2 linked regions of the Homo sapiens genome follow. The protein of the gene in region 1 purifies or fractionates together with the protein of each later gene. This does not show direct contact. Each region holds a gene or a part of one and is shown on either strand. Other genes may lie near its edges.

Region 1 (12,544 bases):
GACAATGGAAGTCGACATAAGCTGAGTCTGCCATTAACTAGGCCAAGGATAAAGCCAGTTTACATGCTGTTCTTAAAAGAAGAGGTTGCTAGAGAGGAGGAGATGGTATAGCTAAGGAGAAAGTCAATATTGTGAGTCAGCCGAGTGGGATGCTGGACATACTGGATGAGCTGACAGGGGTGGGAACGTTTGCACAGCGGTGGTTGGCAGAGACACTATGGGCCTGAAACTGTGATAAAAGGAGCTGGAATGTAGCTTGTTTAGTTGTCATAGGACAAAGGAGGGAACATACAGGTTGGGGTGGGGATTGTGTTACCCACTGAGCCTGGATTAAAAGAAACCATTGGGTTGGGAAGGCATTTCATTTGCTCCGTGCAAGAGGATCCAGTTGTTGGGGGTGACAGGTCAAGTGCTGTGCGGAAACCATTCAGTTGCTGGTGGCCAGCCACAGAAGGCAGAGTGGAAGCACCAGGCAGGTGTCCCTGAAAGACCCCCAGACTGTATGTTCATTTCATAAGGTCCCTTCTTCCCATCAGAAAGGACTGGAATAGGTATCAGCCTCGGAAAACAGGCTGTGTGGATCTCCACTTTTCGATGTTTAGAGAAATGAGTTGGGTATGAGTTGAGCCCGGAGTGCTTGGAAGGCTGATGGTGGTGACATTTGCTGAGTGCTAACTATTGTGCTAGGTGCCATGTACACATGATCTCAATGCGTTGTCTGAGACCTGTCTTGTTTTCACTGTTTTATAGATGTTGATACAGGTGGCCAGAGAGATCGTTTGCCCAAGGTCACACAGTACGAGGTAGAAGTTGGTATTTTCATCTAGCCAACCTATCTGATTACAAAGGGATCCCCTCGCAGTACCTGGGCATTGCTGAAGGAACAAAGAATAAAGTTGTGTGAGTGTGTGTTTGTATAACTTTCAAAGGGTGTTGGATAAATATAGGGTATTTTCCCTTTGGAATTAATCTATCAGGACCAATAAGGTGTGCTGCCACTTTGGGCTTTGGGGAGAAAGGAGCCATGTCTCCAGTAGTTTTGCCATTGTGAGACAGAGTGTCAATATCCTTAGATCCCCCCTTGACAAGGCCCACCAGGCCCTTGGCTGCTCACCATGTTGTTCCAGAGTGCGATGGCCATCTCGGCATGCCCGCGGTCTGAGAAGTGAAAACAGTCCTCGGAGAAGAAGGTGAGGTCAGTGTCCCCTCTCTGCAACCAACGGCAAGGAGGTTATCATCCTGGGAAAGGGCTCTGCTACCTGAGCCCCACTCACTCTCCCAGCAGGTGCCCTGGGCATGTCTCCTTTCATTCTTTCAACTTTCCTGCCAACTTGCTCAGATACTGATGGAAAAACTCCCAGAATTTAGAATTTCTTTTTTTCTTTTTTCTTTTTTTTTGAGACGGAGTTTCGCACTGTCAGCCAGGCTGGAGTGCAGTGGCATAATCTCAGCTCACTGCAACTTCTGCCTCCCGAGTACCTGGGATTACAGGTGCCTGCCATCACGCCCAGCTAACTTTTTGTATTTTTAGTAGAAACGGGGTTTCACCATGTTGGCCAGGCTGGTCTCAAACTCCTAACCTCGTGATTCAACCGCCTTGGCTTCCCAAAGGCTGAGATTACAGGCATGAGCCACTGCACCCGGCCGGAATTTTCTTTTTAAACAGACAAGAATTGGACCCACCCATAGTCTCTCCCTTTTCTTTCAGCACCCCTATCCTAAGAGTTGAAAAGAGTAACATTTTTAGGAAGCTTTCCATTCTATCCCAATCCAGAAAACATCAGGGCCAGGCCTGGGAGCTTAGTCACTATTGATTTCCTTTCAAAGTACATCTGAGTTCCAATCACAGCCCAGCCCCCACAAAAAGGAGGTAATGTGGAAAAAGCCACCCTCAGGAATCCTCTTGGAGAGAGATGGTTAAAAAAAAAAAAAGCCCACTTAGAGAAGGAAATACATCCATCGTCTGTGATAAGGCCCCCATACGTGAGCCTCCCTAAAATACCTGCAGCTCACCTCGTTCAGTGGGGTGAGTGTGTTTTGGAAGAAAGGCTGCACCACAACCGCAAAGTCCTCACGCTGTGTGTATTGGTGCCAGTAGGAGAAACTGGAGATGCCATGCTGGGGACAGAGAGAGAAGCTGCTCAACCCTCCTGGCAAGGCTGCACAGACAGGGTCCAGTCCTGCTGCCTTGGATTGGTTGTTGACGGGAGTCAACTCACCCTAAAGGACAGTGACTTTAAGGGGCTACTCTAGTGGGATGCAAACATACTTTTATTCTCCACCCATTCATGGGCACGGACATTTCAAAGCCCTATGCTGGTTCTCAGGATCAGAGATGAGTTGAACCCAGCGGCTCCTGGTGGGAGAAGCTCCCTAGCTACACAGCTCCACCCAGTCCCATTCCAAAGCCTCTGCCTGAAAGGCTGGGTCTGAGCCACTGACCAGATTGCATAGGCCAAAGTCCTCCCCTCCTCTCACTGCACGAAGAGGTCAATTAGAACATGGGGCTGCAGGTCAGATGGGGAGCATCTCAACACCAGCTCCCAAAATGCCCATGAACTTTGCGGGAGGAGAGTCCACGGTGGCTGGATTTAAGTACCCAAGCATGGAATGTAAAAGGAACAGACTAGATGTACTTATCTTCAAGGAGTTTATCATCCATCTGGAAAAATGAGCCAAGATGTGAAAACATGAGAACCCTTTGGGGCTTTTAGGGCCCATCAAGTACAGACTGAATGTGATATGGGGAGATGTCCGCGGGTGAAGTTCAGGCAGGGGAAGCTCCTTAGAGGAGGGAAGCAGACTTGCCTTGTGAATGAAGGAGGGTCAGTTTGCAGAATGGAAATGCTACCTGAGCCTGAGAGGGAACAATAGAGGCAGAGACATAAGCAGGAGTGGAGGTGGGGAGATGGAAGGGGGCAGAGAGAGGGCAAGGAGAATTTGAGGTAGAGTTAAGTAGGGCAGGGCTAAGCCTTTTTCTTTTTTTCTTTTTTTTTTTTTTGAGATAGGGTCTCACGCTGTTGTCTAGGCAGAGTACAATGGCATCATCATAGCTAACAGCAGCCTCCAACTCCTGGGCTCAAGCTGTCCTCCCATCTCAGCCTCCTGAGTAGCTGGGACACCAGACGTGAGCCATTGTGTCGGGCCTAAGCCTTTTGTTTTTAATGAAGGGAGGGGAGGAAGTGAGTAGTAATTATTACACATGGCTCTGGGTGGGGAATGGGCCCTACCACAAGGAGTCTACTCTGGGAATCTCTTGCTGCCTACCCGCTGGGAGAAGGGGATTTTCTCAGCTTCCACTTTGGGGTCTCTCACTCCCTTCCCTGGCCTTGGTGTTCAATTTGCAGGGGTAAGTATTTCAGGGGCTGCAATCTGCTTTTAGGGAGTGGCTTGCTCTTGGCCACATCCTGCTGGGCATTCGATTTCCCAGTCCTTGGAGTACAGGGGGCCCCCCAGCTGGGTCAGTAAGAGAAGGGCTGCAGGGCTTACCTGGAGGTTCCAGTTCACTTTCTTCAGTTCTTGCTTCTCCAGGGAGCTTTGCGAGTGTCTGAGGCAAGTGCAGTTGTTCCTGTGAGACAGGGAGTGTTGTATTGAGGCTGCCTGGGGCACTGTGGCTCTGTCCTCCTGGGAGGCTGGCTCTGACACACAGAGCAGGCCACTACCCCAGGGGCCTGCAGCCTGTGCTGCCTTACCTAGGGCGGGGGGTGACACACAAGTATCCCCACAATACACCTTTGGCTGATTCTTGGACCCAGGTTACAGAATGCTAACTCAGGAGCCCTGAGGTCCAGAGGATGATTGTTCATAGAGAAAGAGGGAAAGCTGTTGCCTGGACCTCCCTGTGGACAGAACGCCTATTCCCCTTCCTCCTTCCCAAGCCTGTGGTCCCTGGGATTTCTCCAGAGCAGGACTGGGTAGACAGGAGACTGGAGTTTAGGAAACCAGCCACAATGGCTCTGTCCCTGGGTTTGGAATCGCTCCTCAAGTTCCGGGGGCCTCTCAGCTCTTCCTGCAACTGCTTAGGACCCTCCCTCAGGGCTCCAGTGTGGGAAGTCTGTGGGAAAGCTGGGGAGGGCCAACCGGCTGGAAGCAACTCTGACAACATGGAACACGATACAGACAGACTCTGGAGGAGCCGTTCCCTGCGAGAGAGCAGGGTTCCCTGCAAAAATGGGAACCAGCTGGTCACCTTTGCAGCAAATCCATTTGAGCCCAGGTGTAGGACTCCTCAGCTCCCTGGAGAACCTCCTCTCTCATAGCAATAATCACTCAAACTGTGGGAGGCCCTCTGCCCTCAGAACATGGCAACTTCCTACCAGGGTTCAAGAGCTTTAATGACTTCCAGCCCCCGATAGGAGTTCTTGTCTTGCCCATTAGCACCTTGCCTCCAAGCCCAGCTATCAAGGACAGGCCCCATCAAGGATGGAATAAGAGCTATTTCCTAAGACCCTGCTCTTGGTAGTCTTGGTAGGCCAGGTACCTTGTTTCCTCTTGACCTCACATCTACCTTGCAGGGAAGGTGTCATCACCCCCACTTTACAGATGAGGAACACAGAGGCTCATAGAGGTTATGTGGTTTGTTCAAGGTCCCATAGCTCCTAAATGGCAGAACAGTCAAGGCTGGATGTAGCAGCCTTGAAAGCTCATGGCCCCATGCTGCTTCTCAACAGGGAGCAGCGTGCCAAGGTTTGCCTTGGCAATCACTGACAATGTCAGGGAGCCTTAAGGATCATTTGGTCTGTCTCCTTTCACAGAAAAGCAAAAGGGGGTCCAGAGAAATGAGGCACCTTGCATACAGTAGGCATTTGCAAATGTAGAGGTACTTCCTGATGTTGTCCAAGCCCCTGAGCCATGTCTACCCTCTGGCAGGCCTGCCTGGCTCTGCCTCAACTGGTCTCCTCCTTTGGCACCTGCAAGCCCTCCTCACCCCAGGTGCCCTTGCCTTGGGACGGTGACCTGTCCACTTACTGAGCTGCCAGCATGGCACATTTCCCGCCTTGGCCCTGGTACAGGCTAGCCAGCTCCATGACCTCCACCACGTTGACGAAAGCCCTTGGGAGCTGCAGGGAGTGGAGGGTGGTTTCGTTAGGGCACTGGCTACTGCTGGGAGGAACCTGGGGGTCATCTACAATCCAATTCCCACTCCCCTCAATTTTACCAATGAAGAAACTGAGGCCCAGAGAGGGGATGCAACTTGTAGTATCTCACTGAATCTTCTTGAGTGGCCCCGCTTTATAGGTTGAGAAACTGAGACACAGGGAAGTCACTTGCCCGAAGCCACAGTGCTGGGCGCAAACCTGGGCCAATTGGTTCAGAGGCAAGCTCATTGCTACCACACAACCCTGTCTCTGGCCAAGTGAGAATTTTCCCTGCAGAGGAGCTTGACAGCCACCTCCCTCCCTGCCATCCAGGTGCTCACTCATGGCGGGTCTCTGCTCCGTGAGCATCTCACTGAACACAGCCTGCCTACATGCATCCCAGGGAGGTGGCTGGCGGGACCCAGGAACACGTAACCCCTCTCCTACCTCCTCAGAGAGGATGTCCAGGGCCTGTTGGATGTGCTGAACATATTCCGTGGCCAAGTGGGCCTCCTGTAAGGAAAAAAGGGTACTCTCTTTAGCCCCTGGTGCCCGCTCTGAGAGAATGGCAAGAGCATAGGAGGGCTCTGGGGCCTGGGCTAAATGACTGAGTGGGTACAGAGGGGCTTCGGTGGTCCTGGTCAAACTGAGAAGCCCAGTTCTTGTTGCTGCTGAGTCTCTGTAAGGAATCATCCCTTGTCCCCTACTAGACACCATGAACAATCCCAACCCCCACCCTGCTCTACATAATCTCAGACCCAACAGTGGACTCTGCCAGTGCTGGGTCCTGCCACTTTTTGGCCTTGGCTCTCGGCAGTCCCATCCGTCATCTGACCTCAGCCTTCTCCAGCCCCTTGCCATGCCCTGGGTGGCCACACTTCCTTTTTCCTTTGGGCTTTGGTCCATGCTGGTCCCACTGCCTGAAATGTTTTGCTCTCCTGTGTTCCCCTAACTTCTATCCCCTGTGACTCAGTGTAAGGTTCTCTTCCTCTGAACCATCTCCCCAGTAGGAGGCTGATTTAGAGGTGTGTCCACAGCATCCTGGGTGATGCAAACAAGGTACATAGTAGGTGCTCAGTAAGTCCTTGCAGGCTGAATCTCAGGGCTTTGCTTTATAGCAGAGGGAGATGGGCCTCTATTTTTAGATGTGGCTCTGGGCTACAGGCCCAGAAGGTGTCACAGGCTGATACCAGTGGGGGTGCGGGTGGTAACCTGAAGCTCTTATACTCATGGAAGAAAGCATGTCCACAGGAAGTGGGAGTTGAGGCACCCACAAAGCAGCACCACTCAGGCAGGAGGGGAGAGCTCAGGCAGCCCATTATTTTTTCTGGAGACGAAGAGCTGAGGCCAGGTGAGATACCGTGCACTCAATTCCAGCACACTGATGGGCATAGGACCAGTGCTGTTCGCTGAGTTTCTGGCCACAGCCACCAGAAGGGGTACTGGGAGTTGGGAAGAAGGGGAAAGGAACAAGATAGACAATCCATGCCGAAGAGTTAAAATAGAGGAGAGGGGACCTCGTGTCTCCCAGAGTTTCTGCCTTTCCCCCTTTCCTTCTTTTTAAAACAGTCTGAGTTAATCCTAGTCGGGGCAGCCCAGCCCTTTCAACTAAACTACGCTCTCGGAAGTATAAACCTGACTGTTCCCATGAAGAACACACATCCTGGGACTAGTAGAGGGCATTTCCCTACGCCAGCGTCCACAGTGTCCACGCAGCTCTGGGGTCCAGGTATCCCCGGAGTCCAGAACACAGCAATACTTAAATCCCCATGAGTTAGGGTCACTTCTGCCTCTAGAGTGTGGGTGGTCAGGGAGAGAACTGAGGGGAAGAGGTTTGGAAAACCAACTCCTGTGTGTGGGAGGATACTTCTCATCAAGCCTCTGGTAGTTGGCCTCTGTGAGCCACAAGGAGTGATAAATGCCTTTTCCCCCACACCACCATCTGTGACTGTCAAACATTCGACCACAATCTCTGAGGCTGGGCAGCTGCCTTTTCCCGGCCAAATAAAATACAGAATGTCCCCAACTTAGAACAAGATGTATTCCAAAATAAAAACTTTTGGAAGTTACAACTTCCAGAAGTTTGTGAGTCTGGACATATTTCCCCATGGAAACATCAGGAACAGGTTTGGGCTCCCAGGGCCACCACTGAGGTTTGGTTAACTCGTGATGACCCATCCAACCCCATTTAGAACATTGTTTTGCCCTTCCTCAAAATGAAACAGGGCAGGGATGGGGTGAGGATGGCTAGTCCCCTATCTGGTACCAGAGGTCATATTTGTGTGGATAAGAGAGGCCTCACCTCAGCAGTGCCTACAGTGGGTCCACCTTGGCCTTACTTCTGGAATTGGGGAACCAATGCACCTGCTCTTCCAGGGGTCGCTCAGGCAGTAGAAAAGGCTGGGCCTTGCCTGGCATGTGTAAACCAGGGAGGGCCTGGGGCAGCAGGCAAATGTGGTTCCCATGAGCAAGGAGCTCGGGGCAGGGCCAGGGATGGATGGGCAAGGATGTTGCCAGAGGTCAGCACCTTCCTTCTCAGGTCCCCATGGGGTTGGTCGGGGGCCTACCGGATTCTCACAGTAATGACACAAGTCGTTGACCCCAATGAAGAGTGTGACCAGCTTCCAGTCTTTCTCCAGGTTGATGTCCTGAGGGGACAGAAGATCCTGAGTTTAGGCCTTGGTGGGAGGCACATACAAATGTTGCTACTGGGCCAGCCCGCCCGCCCTCCAAGTGCCTTTTGTCTTATTTATACTGTAACAGAGAAAAGCAGCAAATTGGGCCAGGCACGGTGGCTCACACCTGTAATCCCAGCACTTTGGGAGGCTGAGGCAGGTGGATCACCTGAGGTCAGGAGTTCGAGACCAGCCTGGCCAACATGATGAAACCCCGTCTCCACTAAAAATACAAAAATTAGCCTGGCCTGGTGGCAGGTGCCTGTAATCCCAGCTACTTGGGAGGCTGAGGCAGGAGAATCACTTGAACCCAGGAGGCAGATGCTGCAGTGAGCTGAGATCGCACCACTGCACTCCAGCCTGGGTGACAGAGCGAGACTCCGTCTAAAAAAAAAAAAAAAAGAAAAGCAACAAAGTGGGGCTTCCCAGCCCTCAATTGGTGCTAGGATAAGGTGCTCCACAGAGAGGATGTTTTTTTTTTTTGGCGGTGGGCGCTGGCGGGGGACGGGGTTCTGCTTACACAAGGGAGGGCTATTTTCCCCTTGAAATCTTAAGAAAGTTGTGTCCCTGGAGAAGTAGAATGTGGATGTGTCCCACATATCCTTGGCCCATTAAATGCCGAGGGGATTACCACGTCCCCCCAAATGAAGGCCTTCCAGGGAGCTGTAGGCAAAGGATGCAGCTAGAAGCAAAGGCCCTAAGCTGCCCCTGGGATGAGTTCTTAGGGTCGGGGGAAGGAGACTGGAGGAAGAGCCCAGCGTGGACTGAGAAGCGGGGTTGGGGCTGGGAGGCCCTCTAAGCAGTTGGCTTTCCACTTGGCCACCTCCATAATAGGAATCCCACCGGGAGCTGAATTCCTAGGCATAAACACTGAACGGTTAAAAAAAAAAGTGCTAGTGAGAAGTTTCAGAGGGGCAGGGTGAGGGGAAGGAGGCAGAACTGGATTGGAATGAGAAGCCTATTTTTAGAACCTTGCATTTACATAATAGGGCTCTGGGAAGCCACCTCTTGGTTAAAGCAGGAAGCTGTCAGAGGCCAAGGCCACCACCTCAGCCAACTCCCTGTTCCACCTTGCCCTCCCGCAGCCGGCCCTGGGGTGAGGGGTGCCACAGCCTGCGTCTAGGAGTGTGGCCAGGGCAGGCGCCTCCTTGGTAAGGACTGCTTCTCCGAGGATCTTTTGGCTAGCCCAAAGCAGGAAGTGCTGTGGTGAGAGGGACCCTTATGGGGCTGTCCCCTCCCCAGCCAGCAGGAGATGGGCACCTTTCAGGGGTGGCCTGGGGGCCTGTACTCACGGGGCTGTTTTTCATTCGCTCTACCAGGTCCCAGGCCTGGGCTGGCATGTCCCTAGGTGGGGGGTAGAGAGAGGGGCGTTAGTGCCGGCTCAGGAGCGAGGACTCACGACATGGGATTTTGGCCTAGGAAGAGAGGTGTTTCAAGAAGAATGATGTTACCAGTACAAAGGTCATTCCATTCTCAAGAAATCTCAGCTTAGTAACAATCACATGGCTGCCCTGGACCCTGGAGCCACATTGATCTAGCCCCTGCCACCCAATAGTCTCATCGGCCACTCGGGTTGGGATCCCGTCAAGCCTCCCCTCAGGACTTTCCCTTATACTTCCTCAAGCTCTTTCTTCGTAAGCCAAGCCTGTTCATTTCTTCTTCAGTTGCCTGTTTTAAAAATAACCTTTTGTATATTTGAGAAAAGTCACAGCTCTCAATTATCCCTCAGTTTTCTCCTTTCCAGGCTTAATGACTCCTTTAACCTTTACTTCTAAGCCCTGCTCTCTGCTCCTTTAATCCTTTTGTTTTTCTTTTCTGTGGTTACTTAGATTTCCGCACCATTCCCCATCTCCTCACTTTTTTTTTTCTCCCTCTCCAATAAACCAGGATGGACAGGATTAGTTCTCCCTTCATCCCCTGATGTCTGCCATAAATAAAACAATACCATTTGGTGTTCTGGATGAGCGATATGAATGCCAACGGAACACTACTCAGCCATAAAAAGGGACGAACTATTGGTATACCGAATAACATGGATGCATCGCAAAATCATTTTGCTAAATAAGTCAGATAAAAAGTATATACTCTTTGATCCCATTTATATAAAATTTTTAAAAATGCAAACTAATCTATTGTGATGGAAAGAAGGTTAGTGGTTGCCTGGGGTGTGAGGTAGGGACAGGAAGGAGCAGGAGGGAGAGATTACCAAGGGGCCTGAGAAAACTCCTGTGGGTGATGAACACATTTTTCATCTTGATTGTGGTGATGATTTCACAGGTACAATGTTAAATTGTATCCTTTTTGAGACAGGGTCTTGCTCTGTTGCCCAGGCTGGAGTGTAGTGGTGTGATCACGGCTCACTGCAGCCTCAACCCCTCTGAGCTCAAGTGATCCTCCCATCTCAGCCTTCCGAGTAGCTGGGACTACAGGTCCATGCCACCATGCCCGGCTAATTTTTTGTATTTTTGGTAGAGACAGGGTTTCACCAAGTTGCTCAGACTGGTCTCCAACTCCTGGGCAATCTGCCTACCTTGGCCTCCCAAAGTGCTGGGATTAGAGGCGTGAGCCACCGCACCCAGCCAAATTATATCCTTTTAACATGTGACGTTTATTGCATGTCATTTATACCTCAATAAAGCTGTGTTTAAAGAAATGTCTGTGAGAAGTTAGGTCAGCAAAGGGGATATAGCCAATGAAAGTGTCCATGGAAGAAGCCATAAAAGCAGCAACCAGTGCGAGCTGGCCACTGAAAATCTTTGGGTGGCCACGGTAAGCTAGGTACGTGGCCAAACACACATGGTACCATCCCTACCCTTGTTTCTCATTAAGGAGAATTTACAGATCTAGGATTGTATCCCATACATTATTGCTATTGATGAGTATACCAGAAAGCTATAAAGAAAGACTTTTCTGGTCAAAGGTGACCACAGAAGTGCCTTTAACCTTTTAACAGGTTCAAGGTGTGACTAAGAGAATCCATGGGCAATAAGCCCTCGTGGGTAGGAGGGGAAGTTACAAATGCCGCTTCTTCCCCTCTTCCTAGCCATCTTCTTCCCATCCTTCAGGCCCAGACCAAGTCCTACTTTCCCTTGAGCCTCCTCTCTGGGCTCCCTGATCCACACATCTTGCATTTCCTTTTTTACCCCAGGGACCAGTGGTTCTACTTTCAGCTCTGCTACCAACTTGCTGTTGAGCTTGTACAAGTTGCTGAATCTTGCTAGGATTGACTTTTCCCATCTTTTAAAGGAAGAGGTTGGACTGGATGATTTCAGGGGTCCCTTCTGGGTCTGCATCTGTCTTTAGACAGTGCAGTTCATACTGTGTGCTCTTCTGTTCTCTTAATTGTACTCCATGCGAAGCACTGCATTGTTGCCATACCCAGCATTGTCTTTTTCAGAAAGTTATTTCCCATTTGTTTAGCCTCCTTACCTAGAGTGCAAGCTCTTCGTGGCCAGGGAGTTCATCTTTTGATTCCTTTGTATCTTTTATTTATTTTTAATTATTATTATTTTTGGAGATGGAGATTCATTCTTGTTATCCGGGCTGGAGTGCAATGGCACGATCTTGGCTCACTGCAGCCTCCACTTCCTGGGTTCAAGTGATTCTCCTGCCTCAGCCTCCCGAGTAGCTGGGATTACAGGCGTGTACCATCACACCCAGCTAATTTTTGATTTTAGTAGAGATGGGGTTTCACCATGTTGGCCAAGCTGGTCTTGAACTCCTGACCTCAGGTGATCCACCTACCTCGGCCCTCAATGTGCTGGGATTACAGGTGTGAGTCACCATGCCTGGCCCTTTGTATCTTTTAGTAACCACCTTAGGGTTCACTCTTTTGCAGGTGTTCAATGAATTCTTATTGGTTGATGGAAGGAAAGTTAGATGAAAAAAACTTTGAAACTGAAGATCCATTATTAAATGGCAAACTTTTGGTACATTTGTACTGTACTGCTTTTTTGGTGGGTATTATGTGTGGTACTACATTCTTTTCACGGATTATTTATCTCATTTAATCCTTATGACAACCCTGAGAAGTACTATTATTATCCCTATTTATTGCTGAAGAAACAGACTCAGAGATGCTAGGCAACTTGCCCAAGGTCACACAGCTAGCAAGCCTTGGAGCTGGAATGTAGACACGAATGATCTGATCCCACACCCTATGATATTAGGTGTTCTGCTATGGTTTGTATGTTTCTCTTTAGGTGAACTCATCTGTATCTATGCTAATAAACAACAGAATAGAGATAAAGGAAAGTTATAGAGCAATTATCCAACCTCCCTTTCTTAAGTCAATGGATTACTTTCCTTTCCCCTAACATTGGACATCAGAGATACCCACAAGGAGCCCCATGTTCTCAACTACTTCCCTGGCCACTGACTTCATCTGGCAGAGGAGCTGAGCAGCGGTAAAATAGAAAAGGCAATAAGAGAAGTGAAGTGAGAAAGGAAGAAGGGGCTTGATTGTCAACAGAGTGAGAAATCACCTCCTGGAAAATGAAGCCTGTACTGTACAAGAACAACAAAATGATGATGATAATAACAATAATAACAGTAATTAGATGTTGCTATAATGACCTCATAAAGCCCAGTTTTTGCAGAAAAATAATTTCTTCCTGCTCGTGACGTTGAGGAACTGACATCGCTTCCTGTGGCTTAGAGACTCAAACAGAGCATGGGGCCCACGTTACCACTTCTGAAAGGAACATTCCCTGTAAACAGAGTGAGTCAAGCCAGTGTCGTTTCCCTGGTGATCGGAGCATAGTGATCCTTCTACAAGGCATACACCCAGCA
Region 2 (12,544 bases), on another chromosome or scaffold:
GTTTCACCATGTTGCCTAGACTGATCTTGAACTCCTGAGCTCAGGCAATCCTCCTGCCTCGACCTCCTAAAGTGCTGGGATTACAGGCGAGAACCACCATTCTGGGCCTAGAATTTAAATTCTGTCTTGTAATTTAGGTTTGTTTAGAGTGTATTTATTGTTTTGTTTTTTGTTTTTGACATGGAGCTTCCATGCCCGGCCCATCCTAAATTTTTATATATTAGTTTCCCATAAATTTTCTGTCATTCTCTTAATCTTATCTATTCTGTTCTAACCCTTTAATATAATTTTTTTTTTTTTTGGGGACAGAGTCTTGCTCTTGTTGCCCAGGCTGGAGTGCAGTGGCGCGATCTCAGCTCACTGAAACCTCTGCCTCCCAGGTTTAAGTGATTCTCCTGCCTCAGCCTCCCAAGTAGCTGGAATTACAGGCACTGCCACTTATGCCCAGCTAATTTTTTGTATTTTTAGTAGAGACAGGCTTTCACCATGTTGGTCAGGCTGGTCTCGAACTCCTGACCTCAGGTGATCCACCTGCCTTGGCCTCCCAAAGTGCTGGGATTACAGGCTCATGCCTGGCCCAATATTTTTGTTTAATTATTTTTTCTAGACTCTAGTTTTGTATATCTGAGCCTGTACTAGGGCTTTAAGATATGTAAAATCAAGGACAAATTGAATGGAGATAGAATCTATAAAATGTGCTTTTTCCTCTCAATGTTTTATTCTTCCAAATCACTCTTGCAGGTCATTATTTCTAGATTTAAATTTTACTTCTTCCTTCTGAGGGGCATAGACAGAAGAGAAGTAAGGTGTGTTACACAATTAGATCTTATTGAAAAAAATTATAGCATGATAGGAATTTTATTAATAGTACTGTATCATTACTTTATACCTCTTGATCTTTTGTTTTTATTAATACTAATAATTGGCACCATTGATTTGACAATTAATAGGCGTATTCAGCCTCTTCCCCATCCCAGCCCATTTTAAGAGAGTTAAAATGCTATATTAGCATTTTTTTTTTGTTTTTTGAGGCGGAGTCTTGCTCTGTTGCCTAGGCTGGAGTGCAGTGGCATGACCTTGGCTCACTGCAACGTCTTCCTCCCAGGTTCAAGCGATTCACCATCTCGGCCTCCCAGGTAGCGGGGACCACAAGTGTCCACCACCATGCCTGGCTAATTTTTGTATTTTTAGTAAAGACGAGGTTTCACCATGCTGGCCAGGCTGGTCTCAAACTCCCTACCTCAGGTGATCTGCCCGCCTTGGCCTCCCAAAGTGCTAGGATTACGGACATGAGCCACTGTGCCTGGCCTGTATTAGCATTTTAAATGCTTTTTATACTTTGCATTTTTCCCAAATTTATTTGACCTCACATCCCTTTTTATGGGGAGTATAAAAAAGATATATGTACATTTCACAAGAAATATGTTTCACAGAACACAATTTGAGAAATGCTACTTAATTATAATTTTTAACTGATAAATATTTAGTATAAGGCTAACAGTTCCTCTAATAATATTGAGCTGCTTTTTTGGAAGTATTTTTAAACCCTAAAAATATAAATAAACAATGTTTAATGTAGGAAAATTAAAAAATACCATAAGCCACAACACCTCTCAATAATTGTACTCCCTGTGTTAGTCCTTTCTTATATTGAATCTCAGCTGGAGAAACTGATGCTGGGTTAGTTTTGGGTCTAAATCTTCTTTCCTCCCTCCCTTCCTCCCCTTTCCCCTTTCCTTTCCTTCCTTCTTTCTTTTTTTTTTTTTTTTTGAGATGGAGTCTTGCTCTGTTGCCCAGGCTGGAGTGCAGTGGCACTATCTCGGCTCACTGCAAGCTCCGCCTCCCAGGTTCACGCCATTCTCCTGCCTCAGCCTCCCGAGAAGCTGGGACTACAGGCGCCCACCACCACGCCTGGCTAATTTTTTTTTTGTATTTTTAGTAGAGACGGGGTTTCACCGTGTTAGCCAGGATGGTCTCGATCTCCTGACCTCGTGATCCGCCCGCCTCGGTCTCCCAAAGTGCTGGGATTACAGGCATGAGCCACCGCGCCCAGCCCTCCTTCTTTCTTTCCTTTTTTTTCTTTTTCTTTTTTTTTTTTTCTGAGATGGGATCTCACTTTGTTGCCCAGGCAGGATCACGGCCCATTGCAGCCTTGACCTCCTGGGCCCAGGCAATCCTTCCACCTCAGCCTTCCAAGTAGCTAGGACCATAGGCCTGCACCACCATGTCTGGCTAAGTTTTTCTTTTTCTTTTCTTTTTTTTTTTTTTGGGAGAGACGGGCTCCCTCTGTTGCCCAGGCTAGTCTCAAACTCCCGAGCTCAAGCAATCCTTCTGCCTTGGCCTCCCAAAGTTCTGGGATTATAGGCGTGAGCCATCGCTCCTGGCCATGGGTCTAACTTCTTTTTTTTTTTTTGGAGATGGAGACTTGCTCTGTCGCCCAGGCTGGAGTGCAGTGGTGTGATCTTGGCTCACTGCAGCCTCCGCTTCCCAGGTTCAAGTGATTCTCCTGCTTCAGCCTCCCAAGTAGCTGGGATTACAGGCATCTGCCACCATGCTTGGCTAATTCTTGTATTTTTAGTAGAGATGGGGTTTCACCATGTTGGCCAGGCTGGTCTCGAACCTGACCTCAAGTGATCCGCCCACCTCAGCCTCCCAAAGTGCTGGGATTACAGGTATGAGTCACCGCACCTGGCCCATGAGTCTAAATCTTAAAAGAGCAATGTAGCTTCCTGTTTGTGCCCTTTGTAGCCCTGATCTCAATATGGAGTCAGGCTACAGCAATGGAGAGACTATTTGTTGAGGGCAAGGCCCTGAGGCTAACTTGTTTTGCTCCCTGTTTTATCTCCCTATTGTCTAGATCAGAGACTGGCCAATAGTATTTGTAGAATGAATTAATGAGTGAATAAGTACATGTGGAGTATTAGGGATGCCATTTGACTTTTTACTCATCATGGCTTGCTCAAGTCATCCATTTCCTACTTGATACTACTCAAGACAGATGGAATGAAAATGGCTTGTTTTGTTGATGAGCAATTTTGGTAGTGGTGATATTGTTATTGACTCTTTCTGAAAGTTAAGTTTTAAATGGAAAATTAAACCAAAGTTATATTGGGGAAGAAAAAGAATTTTTTTTCTGTTTTTATTGTAAAAGCTGCTTTTAAAAAGTCTGTGATACTGGCTGGGCACAGTGGTTCATGCCTATAATCCCAGCACTTTGGGCGGAAGGCAGGAGGATAGCTTGAACCCAGGAGTTAAGGACCAATCTAGGCCATATAGGGAGACTCTGTCTCTACAAAAAATTTAAAAAGTTAGCTGGTCATGATGGTATGCACCTGTTGTCCCAGGTATGTGTGGGAGGTGGAAGGATTGCTTGAGCCCAGGGCTGCAGTGAGCCACGATCATGCCACTGCACTTCAGCCTGGGCAACAGAGCGAGACCCTGACTCAAAAAAAGAAAAGTCTATAATGCCCATTATGCCTATCTTCTGTAGTGTTATACTATGGGAAAATGTGGATCTTCTTTCAGTATCTTGGTTATGTCTTAAGTTGATGGTGGTAATTTTTAACACTAAATTTGCCATAGATTATATATTATATGTGCATATTTTTACCTTTTCACACTTTTAACCTTGTATATATTAGGAATGCAATTAAGTTTTTATTTTAAAATGATTACATTGTTTAATTTTATAGGTCCATTCAAAAGCTTGGTGAATTAAATATTGGAATGGATGGCCTTGGTAATGAGGTATCAGCACTCAACCAGCAATGTAATGGGAGCAAAGGCAATGGATCTAATGGTTCTTCTGTGACTAGTTTTACTACACCACCCCAAGACTCTAGTCAGAGATTAACACATGATGCTTCAAATATTCATACAAGCACTCCTCGTAATCCTGGATCAACAAATCACATACCTTTTCTGGAGGAATCACCTTGTGGAAGCCAAATGTAAGTGCTTGACTTTGTAAAACTTGGAAATATTAACTTACTACTAATGGTTAGAAGGTTGAACTTGTCTTTGGAGCCTTATAAATAAAAGTTTTTAGAGCTTACTGCCTACCAATTTTTTTTCCTAATCTGCCTTCATTTGTCTATATTCTCTTCTACCAACTTCTAAGTCTCTTTATAGTTTCCATTTTCCTTCTATTTTTCTTTTTGCTTCCTGACTACCACCAAGGCAATTATATTTTTTATAAGCCATCCTACTCAAAGAACCTACAGTTTTAGGATCTCTAAATCTTGATTTTCTTTTTTCTTCAGTTGGCATCTTTGAACAAATAATCTTAAAATTCAGACTTTCAGGGCATAGAAAGATGTTTTACAATCTGGTGGAATGATTACAGCTGCAGTGTTGGCTGCTTTGGCAATTACAGCAGTGGAAGACTGCATATTTACATTTTCACTATTCAGGGAAAATTTTTATCTTGCTATCATTAGTATACAAGTGTTAATTTATGCAATGGGAATAGTTAAGGAGCATTTTCTATATTCTTAGCATAAAACACTTTTCAGGGTGGTTCATTAAAAAATGTATAAGATGAGATTCCCAGCTTTTTGGCTGAGATTAAGTACAAAAATGTATAACTTGCTTTTGGCACTTGGATGCTTATAGGAATTCACTTTATAAATAATTAGTGTCAAAAACCTAGTTTTATTTCAGAGCATAAATTCAATTTTTGATTCTTTTCTGAATTTTTATTTTTTTACTATTTGCTTTTTTATTACAGCTTTCATAATAGTTGTTTTGAGTACTTTCAAAACAAGAATTCAGATTTTAAAATTTAATTTTTGTTTTTGTCCATGTAATATACATACATGGTTTCAAAAGACAAATAGTACTTCAAGGCTTAAAATAAAACCCATCTTTGTCCATGGTTTTATTTCTTATTGGCTGCCATTTTCAACCCATTTGGCTGTTTCTCTTGATATATATACATACAATTTTTTTTTAAGATGGGATCTCACTATGTTGCCTAGGCTGGTCTCAAATTCCTGGGCTTAAGTGATCCTCCTACCTCAGCCTCCCAAAGTCCTGGGATTACAGGAGTGAACCACCACACCCAGCCTTTTGCTATATATTTCCACATTTCTGAAAAACATACTTCTATTACTGTTTTGTTTTGTTTTTTTGAGATGGAGTTTTGCTCTTGTTGCCCGGGCTGGAATGCAGTGGTGTAATCTCAGCTCACTGCAACCTCTGCCTCCCAGGTTCAAACAATTCTCCTGCCTCAGCCTCCTGAGTAGCTGGGATTACTGGCATGTGCCACCATGTCCAGCTAATGTTTTGTATTTTTGGTAGAGACAGGGTTTCACCATGTTGGCCAGGCTGGTCTCGAACTCCTGACCTCATGATTCGCTCACCTCGGCCTCCCAAAGTGCTGGAGTTACAGGCATGAGCCACCGCACCCGGCCTCTATTACTGTTTTTGCTATCTGTTGATTCTCTACCATACTCCTCATACATAGCACCCTCACTTTGTCTATCCCTTATTTTCAGTATATATCAATTTTTGTTTAAATCAGTATCAGTGTGATTTTGTTTAAATCAGTATCACATTACTATGACCTTGTAAATGTTATTTACAACTGGGTCATGTAGTGCCATATGATTATATTTCTTTTTCATATAGCTTCTTGTTTTTCCTGGAGACAGTAATTGCCTCAAGTTGGTGTTCATGTGTCTGTACATGATGAGTTTTCTTAATATTTATCACTAAACTATCTGTAAGTGCTTTGACAGAATTATAAAATCATAAAACTTCTCTCATTATTGTAAAAAGTGTCAGAAATTTCTCTATTCCATTTTTTCCCCTTGGGAGATGTCCCTCCAGGATCACTCCTGCTTCACTTTATATTTACTGCTTTTTGATCACTTTATGTAGGTCTAGATAGAATCCTGGGACTTTCCTCACTGTTCTGCTGGGATTTCCTTTGCCTCATCTCTTTATTAGATTCCCTGTTTTTAGCATCTCACAGTTTCCTGAAAAGGGGTGCCTTAGAGGTGAAGTTTCTGAGACCTTGCATGTCTAAAAATGTGTTTGCTTTATTTTTCACCTTTTTTGTTAGTATAGCTGGGTATAGAATTCTAGGATGAAAATCATTCCTCAGTATTTCAAAAGCATTGCTACATGATCTTCCAGTTTTAGTGTTCTGATTAAAAAGTCTGATGCCATCTTGATTCCTCATTGTCTTTTTTTTTTTTTGAGACAGTGTCTCACTTTGGCTCCCAGGCTGGAGTGCAGTGGCGCAATCTTGGCTCACTGCAACCCCCGGCCTCCTGGGTTCAAGTGATTCTTGTGCCTAAGCTACCCTACTAGCTGGGACTACAGGTACATACCACCACACCCAACTAATTTTTGTATTTTTAGTAGAGATGGAGTTTCACCATGTTTACCATGTTGGCGAGGCTGGTTGATTCCTCATTCTTTGGGTGAGGCCTATTGCTCCTTCTACTCTGGAATTTTTCAGGTTCTTCTCTTCCCTGATAGTCTGAAACTTCATGATGATATAGAAGATAGACCTTAGAGTGATTCTATTTTTCCTTATTCTTCTGGGTATTTCATGGGCCCTTTTAAGTTGGAAACTTAAGTTCTAGGAAATTAAAAAAATATTATTTAGCAATTTCCTCACCTCTATTTTCTATGGATTTACTTTTTTTTTTCCTTTTAATTACATTTATTTTAATGCTGAATTTACTCCCGTGCCATAAGTTTTTGTTTCTTCAGTTTCTTCTGGGATATCCTTTTCTTCTGGGCAACCTCCTCTTCTGGTTTAGGAACAATCTGTTCCTTTTCCGTAAGGATCATCTCAATGTGGCAGGGAGAGCTCATGTATGGGTTAATCCGACCATGAGCTCTGTAGGTCCGGCGGCGCATCTTAGGTGCTTTGTTCACTTGGATATGCTCAATGACCAGAGAATCTACATCTAAACCCTTAAGTTCAGCATTACTCTCTGTGTTTTTAAGCATGTGCAGCAAAAATTCAGCACTCTTTTTGGGCCACCGACCTTGTGTCCAGCCCCACTGCTTGGCCTGCGCACACCTGCCAACTCCACCATTGTAACGTCGGAATGGTACACACTGTTTCTGTAAAGTGACATCTTTCAGATACTTCGTGGCTTTTCGTATATGCATACCCTTGATGGCCTGAGCAGTTTCACGAGTGTTCTTAAAGTGAACACGAAGATTGGAACCTCTTGATTTGCATGATTCCGTGGGGTTCTCCGGGTCAAGTGAATAGCGAACCATTTTCACAGATTACCTCAGGCTGCTTCGGATTTACTTTTTTCTACCATCATATTTTAATTTTCTAAGAGGTCTTTCTTATTATCTAATTTCTTTTCCTTTTTAAAAAATAGATCTTGCTCTTGTTTCCTTATTAATCTGTTATTTCCTCTTATATCTAAGGATTTAAATTACATTTTTGTAGCTTTTGTTCCCTAAATTGCCTCTCTTCTCCCAAGTTCATTTTTCTGTTGATTTTAGTCTCTACCTTTTATCTCGGCTTTTTTCAGGTATCTAGAAAGCTTTGGCTGGCCGTAAACAGTGAGACATTAAAACAAAAGCTGGCTGGGTGTGGTGACTCACACCTGTAATCCCAGCAATCTGGGAGGTTGAGGTGGGAGGATTGCTTGAGCCCAGGAGTTCGAGAGCAGCCTGGGCAACATAGGGAGACCCCGTCTCTATTATATTTTATAATATTAAATAAAAATTTTAAAAGCTGATTGGAAGGAAGGGCTACATATGTGGGTGGATCTGTCTGCTTGTTGGCCTCACAAAAATTGATTAAGAGGAAACATAGTTTTACTAAGGTACCCTAAACTGTAAGTTTCTGATATTTTTTTCTCTTGGGCCAGATAATTTTCCTGAAGAGCATTCTCCAGTGTCCTGTCTGGGGTTGGATTTAAGCATAGCAAACAGGATTCTGGAACTAAGCAAGGGAAGGGTACTTGACATCTCACTATAAAATATGTGGACTTTGACTTAATTTTCTTTCCAGAATGGCTTTTCATCTCCTCCTTACAACTGTCATTGGTGCCACTGAATCCAGAGCTTATTTTAATAAATGTCTCCAGAGAGTAACTTTGGAGTCAGCTAGGATTGTTTGCTAAAAAGAAAAATTAGTGTTTGAAAGGGTAAATTAATTTAGTTTCTATTTTGATACATGGAGTAAACTTTACTTGAATTTCTACTCCCACAGCTCTTCAGAACATTCGGTCATTAAGCCACCTCTTGGAGATTCTCCAGGGAGTCTTTCAAGGTCGAAAGGGGAAGAGGTAATACTTTGGGGAAGGAAGTTTTATTGTTTTCATATGCACCTGTAAATTTTGCTAAGAAATTTTCAATTCAAAGAAAGAACCATTTTAGTCAGACGTGGTGGTGTACAGTACCCAGGAGGCCGAGGCAGAAGAATGTCTTGAGCCCAGAAGTTTGAGATTGTAGAGTACTAGAATCGCACCTGTGGATAGCCGTTGCACCACTCCAACCTGGGCAACAGAGTGAGACCTCGTGTCTTAAAAAAAAAAAAACAAAAAAAAACCCCACAAACTTTTACTGCTAATGTTGGTATTTATCTCGAGGCTCAAGGCAGTTGAGCTCTCAGTGGTGTAACTGAAGAGGGAGCCTTAGAAAGCACAGTTGGACACGTGGGAGTGTTCATATTAATGGCCTAGTAGTGGCCTTGGGACATGAATTGAGGCTCTGTGTTATTCTCTGAACCCTATGGTTAATTTCATTATTGGTATCTCTTTGGGCTTCTCATCGGTACACCTTTTTTTTTGCTTTGGAAGCAAACATCCTTTCCTAGCTAGTATACAGCTTCACTCTATCTTACTTTTCCTAGTTCAGATTTTAACCCCATAAACAAAGGTGTTAATTTGAGATGCTTTTAGGGATGAAATAGATAACATAAATTAATAAAATTGACCATTTTTATGATAAGCACAAAGGAATATTTGTCCCTTGCAAAAGAAATATGCAAGTCCAGTGTTTCCAATTCCTTTGATTTAAAAAAAAATATTAGGCCAGGCATGGTGGCTCACACCTGTAATCCCAGCACTTTGGGAGGCTGAGGCAGTTGGATCATCTGAGGTCGGGAGCTCAAGACCAACCTGGCCAACATGGCAAAACCCCGTCTCTACTAAAAATACAAAAATTAGCCAGGCATAGTGGTTCACGCCTGTAATGCTAGCCACTTGGGAGGCTGAGGCACGAGAATTGCTTTAACCCAGGAGGCAGAGGTTGCAGTGAGCCAAGATCGCGCCATTGTACTCCAGCCTGGGGGACAGAGCAAGACTCTGTCTCCAAAAAATATATGTATGTATATATATTAATAGAGACATGGTGTGACTACGTCACCCAGGCTGGTCTCAAATTCCTGGGCTCAAGCAATCCTCCCACCTCGACCTCCCAAAATGCCAGGATTACAGGTGGGAGGCACTGCACCTGACCTGATTTTCAAGAAAAGCTAGAAATCTAGATTTTTATGTGAAATCACCTAGTTTTTTAAATGACAACAAATTTAAAAAAATTTTAAGGCTGGATGCAGTGGCTCACTCCTGTAATCCCAACACTTGGGAGGTCAAGGCAGGTGGATCACCTGAGGTCAGGAGTTTGAGACCAGCCTGGCCAACATGGCGAAACCCAATCTCTTCTAAAAATACAAAAAATTAGCTGAGTGTGATGGCGGGTGCCTGTAATCCCAGCTACTTGGGAGGCTGAGGCAGGAGAATCGCTTGAACCTGGGAGGCAGAGGTTGCAATGAGCCAAGATTATGCCATTTCACTCCAGCCTAGGCAACAAGAGCAAAACTCTGTCTCAAAAAAAATTTAAAACACTCTGGAGGACAGCAAATAAAATCAGTTTGTGTGGCTTCTGCTATAAAGCAATCTTTAGTAATTTTTGATGTGCTATAGGCCATTTAGTTAATTAGTCGTTTTTCCTCCCTTTTTCTCTTATCTACCCCATGCTATTATATAATTTTGCAAACAGTCACATTCCCTGTGTATGGATTATTGGAAAATGCAACATTTCTAGTCAAATTCATACAAATAATATCAGAATTCAATTCACTTACATAGGACATACATAGCGTAACACATCAGGTTTGCCCCCCTACTCCTGCAAGGAGGATGTATTGCATGAATAAAGGCTTAGGTAGAGAGAGGCATAGTCTTTTCATTGCTGTAGTCATTATGGGTCCTAGACCTCTCAGAATACATCCAGAGCTGAAGTGATTTTCCTTTGTGTGTGTACTTGACATTCATACTTCTCAAAGCCGGGGTTTGGTTGAGTCTGACCATACCTAGTGTAGAGGTTCCTGCACCATGTCCAGTCAGTCCTGGTCAGGGTAACACGGTGGTTTCAAATGACATCAGTAGTAGGTTCACCAAAGCTTTTATACAGAACTGCTTCAGCATCTCTCTTCAGAAGAGAGATCTGGATGGACAGGTTGACAGTTTAAAGTAAAAATGAGGCTAGGCGTGGTGGCTCACACCTGTAATCCCAGCACTTTGGGTGGCTGAGGTGGCAGATCACTTGAGCTCAGGGGTTCGAGACCAGTCTGGCCAACATGGTGAAACCCCATCTCTACTAAAAATACAAAAATTAGCCGGGTGTGGTGGTGCATGCCTATAATCCCAGCTACTTGGGAGGCTGAGGCAGGAGAATCGCTTGAACTTGGGAGGCAGAGGTTGCGGTGAATCAAGATTGCGCCACCGCACTCCAGCCTGAGCAGTAGAGCGATACTCCATCTCAAAAAAAAAAAGTAGAAATGAAACATTCAAATGTTTCCATTAAAATTATTTTTACAGTTTTAAAGGGATGTTTGTTTATTTATTTATTTAATTTGAGACAGAATCTTGCTCTGTTGCCCAGGCTGGAGTGCAGTGGTGCGATCTCAGCTCACTGCAGCTTTGACCTCCCAGGCTCAAGTGATCCCCCCACCCCAGCGCCCTGAGTAGCTGTGACTACGGGCATGCGCCACCACACCCGGCTAATTTTTGTATTATTTTTCTTTTTTTTGGTAGAGATGGGTTTTCATCATGTTGCCCAGGCTGTTAAAGGGATATTTTATAACTTCAGCTTGAAATACTGAAATATTCATTGATAGAGATAATGGTAAACATTTTTTCTTAAGCAGATTAATAATCCTTTATACTTCCTTCATTTAGAAACACAAATGAAACTCTATTTGTTAGAACTTCTAGTGGGCTTTTTTTTTTTTCTTAATAGTTAAAGAGAACTTAATATAGGAATGCATACTTATTCTTTCCTTCCTTCTTGGTGCCCCGCCCCTCCCCCCTTCCTATCTCCCCCTCCCTGACAGGTGTTGCCCAGGCTCACTATAGCCTCAACCTCCCAGACTCAATCGATCCTCCCACCTCAGCCTCCCAAGTAGCTGAGACTACAGGTGCATACCACCACAGCCGTCTAAAATTTTTTTTTTTTTTCATTTTTATAGAGATGGGGTTTAGCCATGTTGCACAGCCTGGTTTCAAACTCCTGGGCTCAAGCAATATGCCCAACTCGGACTCACAAAGTGCTGGGATTATAGGCATGAGCCACCGTGCCTGGCCCGTATTTATTCTTACATTTTGTCTTAATAATTGAAGAAAAACTTGAGTGTTTATGAACTGAGCTTAGTTTAGCAATGAGTAATGAAAAATAGAAAAATTAGGGAATTTGAATATGCTACTTAATATATGGAGACTGCTGTCAGAAAAACTTCATGTAATCATATGTATTTAAAAACAATTGGCTGGAACCAGGTGCGGTGGCTCATGCCTGTAATCCCAGCACTTTGGGAGACTGAGGCAAGCAGATCACTTCAGGTCAGGAGTTTGAGACCAGCCTGGCCAACACAGTGAAACCCTGTCTCTACTAAAAATTCAAAAATTAGTCAAGCATGGTGGTGGGTACCTGTAATCACAGTTGCTCAGGAGGCTGAGGCAGGAGAATCACTTGAACCTGGGAGGCAGAGGTTGCAGTGAGCCAAGATCACGCCACTGCACTCCAGCCTGGGCAACAGAGCAAGACTCCATCTCAAAAACAAACAAAACAAAACAAAACAAACAATTGGCTGGTGCGGTGGCTCACACCTGTAATCCCAGCACTTTGAGAGGCCGTGGTGGGCAGATTGCTTGAGCCCAGAAGTTCAAGACCAGCCTGGGCAACATGGCGAAACTCCATCTCTATTTTTTTTTAATTAAAAAAATTAAAACTTTTTAAAAAAGGAAAGCAATAATGCTGCACTTTAAAAGAATCATCTAAAGAATACAGAAATGGCCCATGGACATGGACGTTAACATGAACATAGTAAAATGGAATTTCCAGATTATAAACAATGGAAGATAGAAGAAACACCATTAGAAACTATCCAGGAGAAGCTGGCTGCAGGAGGGCTAAGGGATCTATGGGGCTGTAATGAAGCTTAGAGAAACATGGGTGACTTTGCAAACAATGTTTCCTCTGATGGTGCATTATTAAAAGGATTCAAAGATTTGCTGCATTTGTGGTAGCTGTAGGGGTTTAATATTACCTGGTG

The links.
Region 2: the proteins of PLB1 (region 1) and WDR47 purify together in Homo sapiens (affinity purification with mass spectrometry; 2 studies listed by BioGRID and IntAct, with this or other methods). This does not show direct contact.

What each region holds. Positions count from the first base shown.
Region 1 is NC_000002.12:28,621,610-28,634,153, reverse strand, and holds part of PLB1 (phospholipase B1, membrane-associated isoform 1 precursor), read right to left. Parts: intron 9,098-12,544; coding exon 9,046-9,097; intron 7,727-9,045; coding exon 7,646-7,726; intron 5,592-7,645; coding exon 5,526-5,591; intron 5,061-5,525; coding exon 4,969-5,060; intron 3,569-4,968; coding exon 3,490-3,568; intron 2,119-3,489; coding exon 2,014-2,118; intron 1,211-2,013; coding exon 1,115-1,210; intron 1-1,114. UniProt on the Homo sapiens protein: Calcium-independent membrane-associated phospholipase that catalyzes complete diacylation of phospholipids by hydrolyzing both sn-1 and sn-2 fatty acyl chains attached to the glycerol backbone (phospholipase B activity).
Region 2 is NC_000001.11:108,986,986-108,999,529, reverse strand, and holds part of WDR47 (WD repeat-containing protein 47), read left to right. Parts: intron 1-3,692; coding exon 3,693-3,950; intron 3,951-8,200; coding exon 8,201-8,276; intron 8,277-12,189; exon of another isoform or gene 12,190-12,544.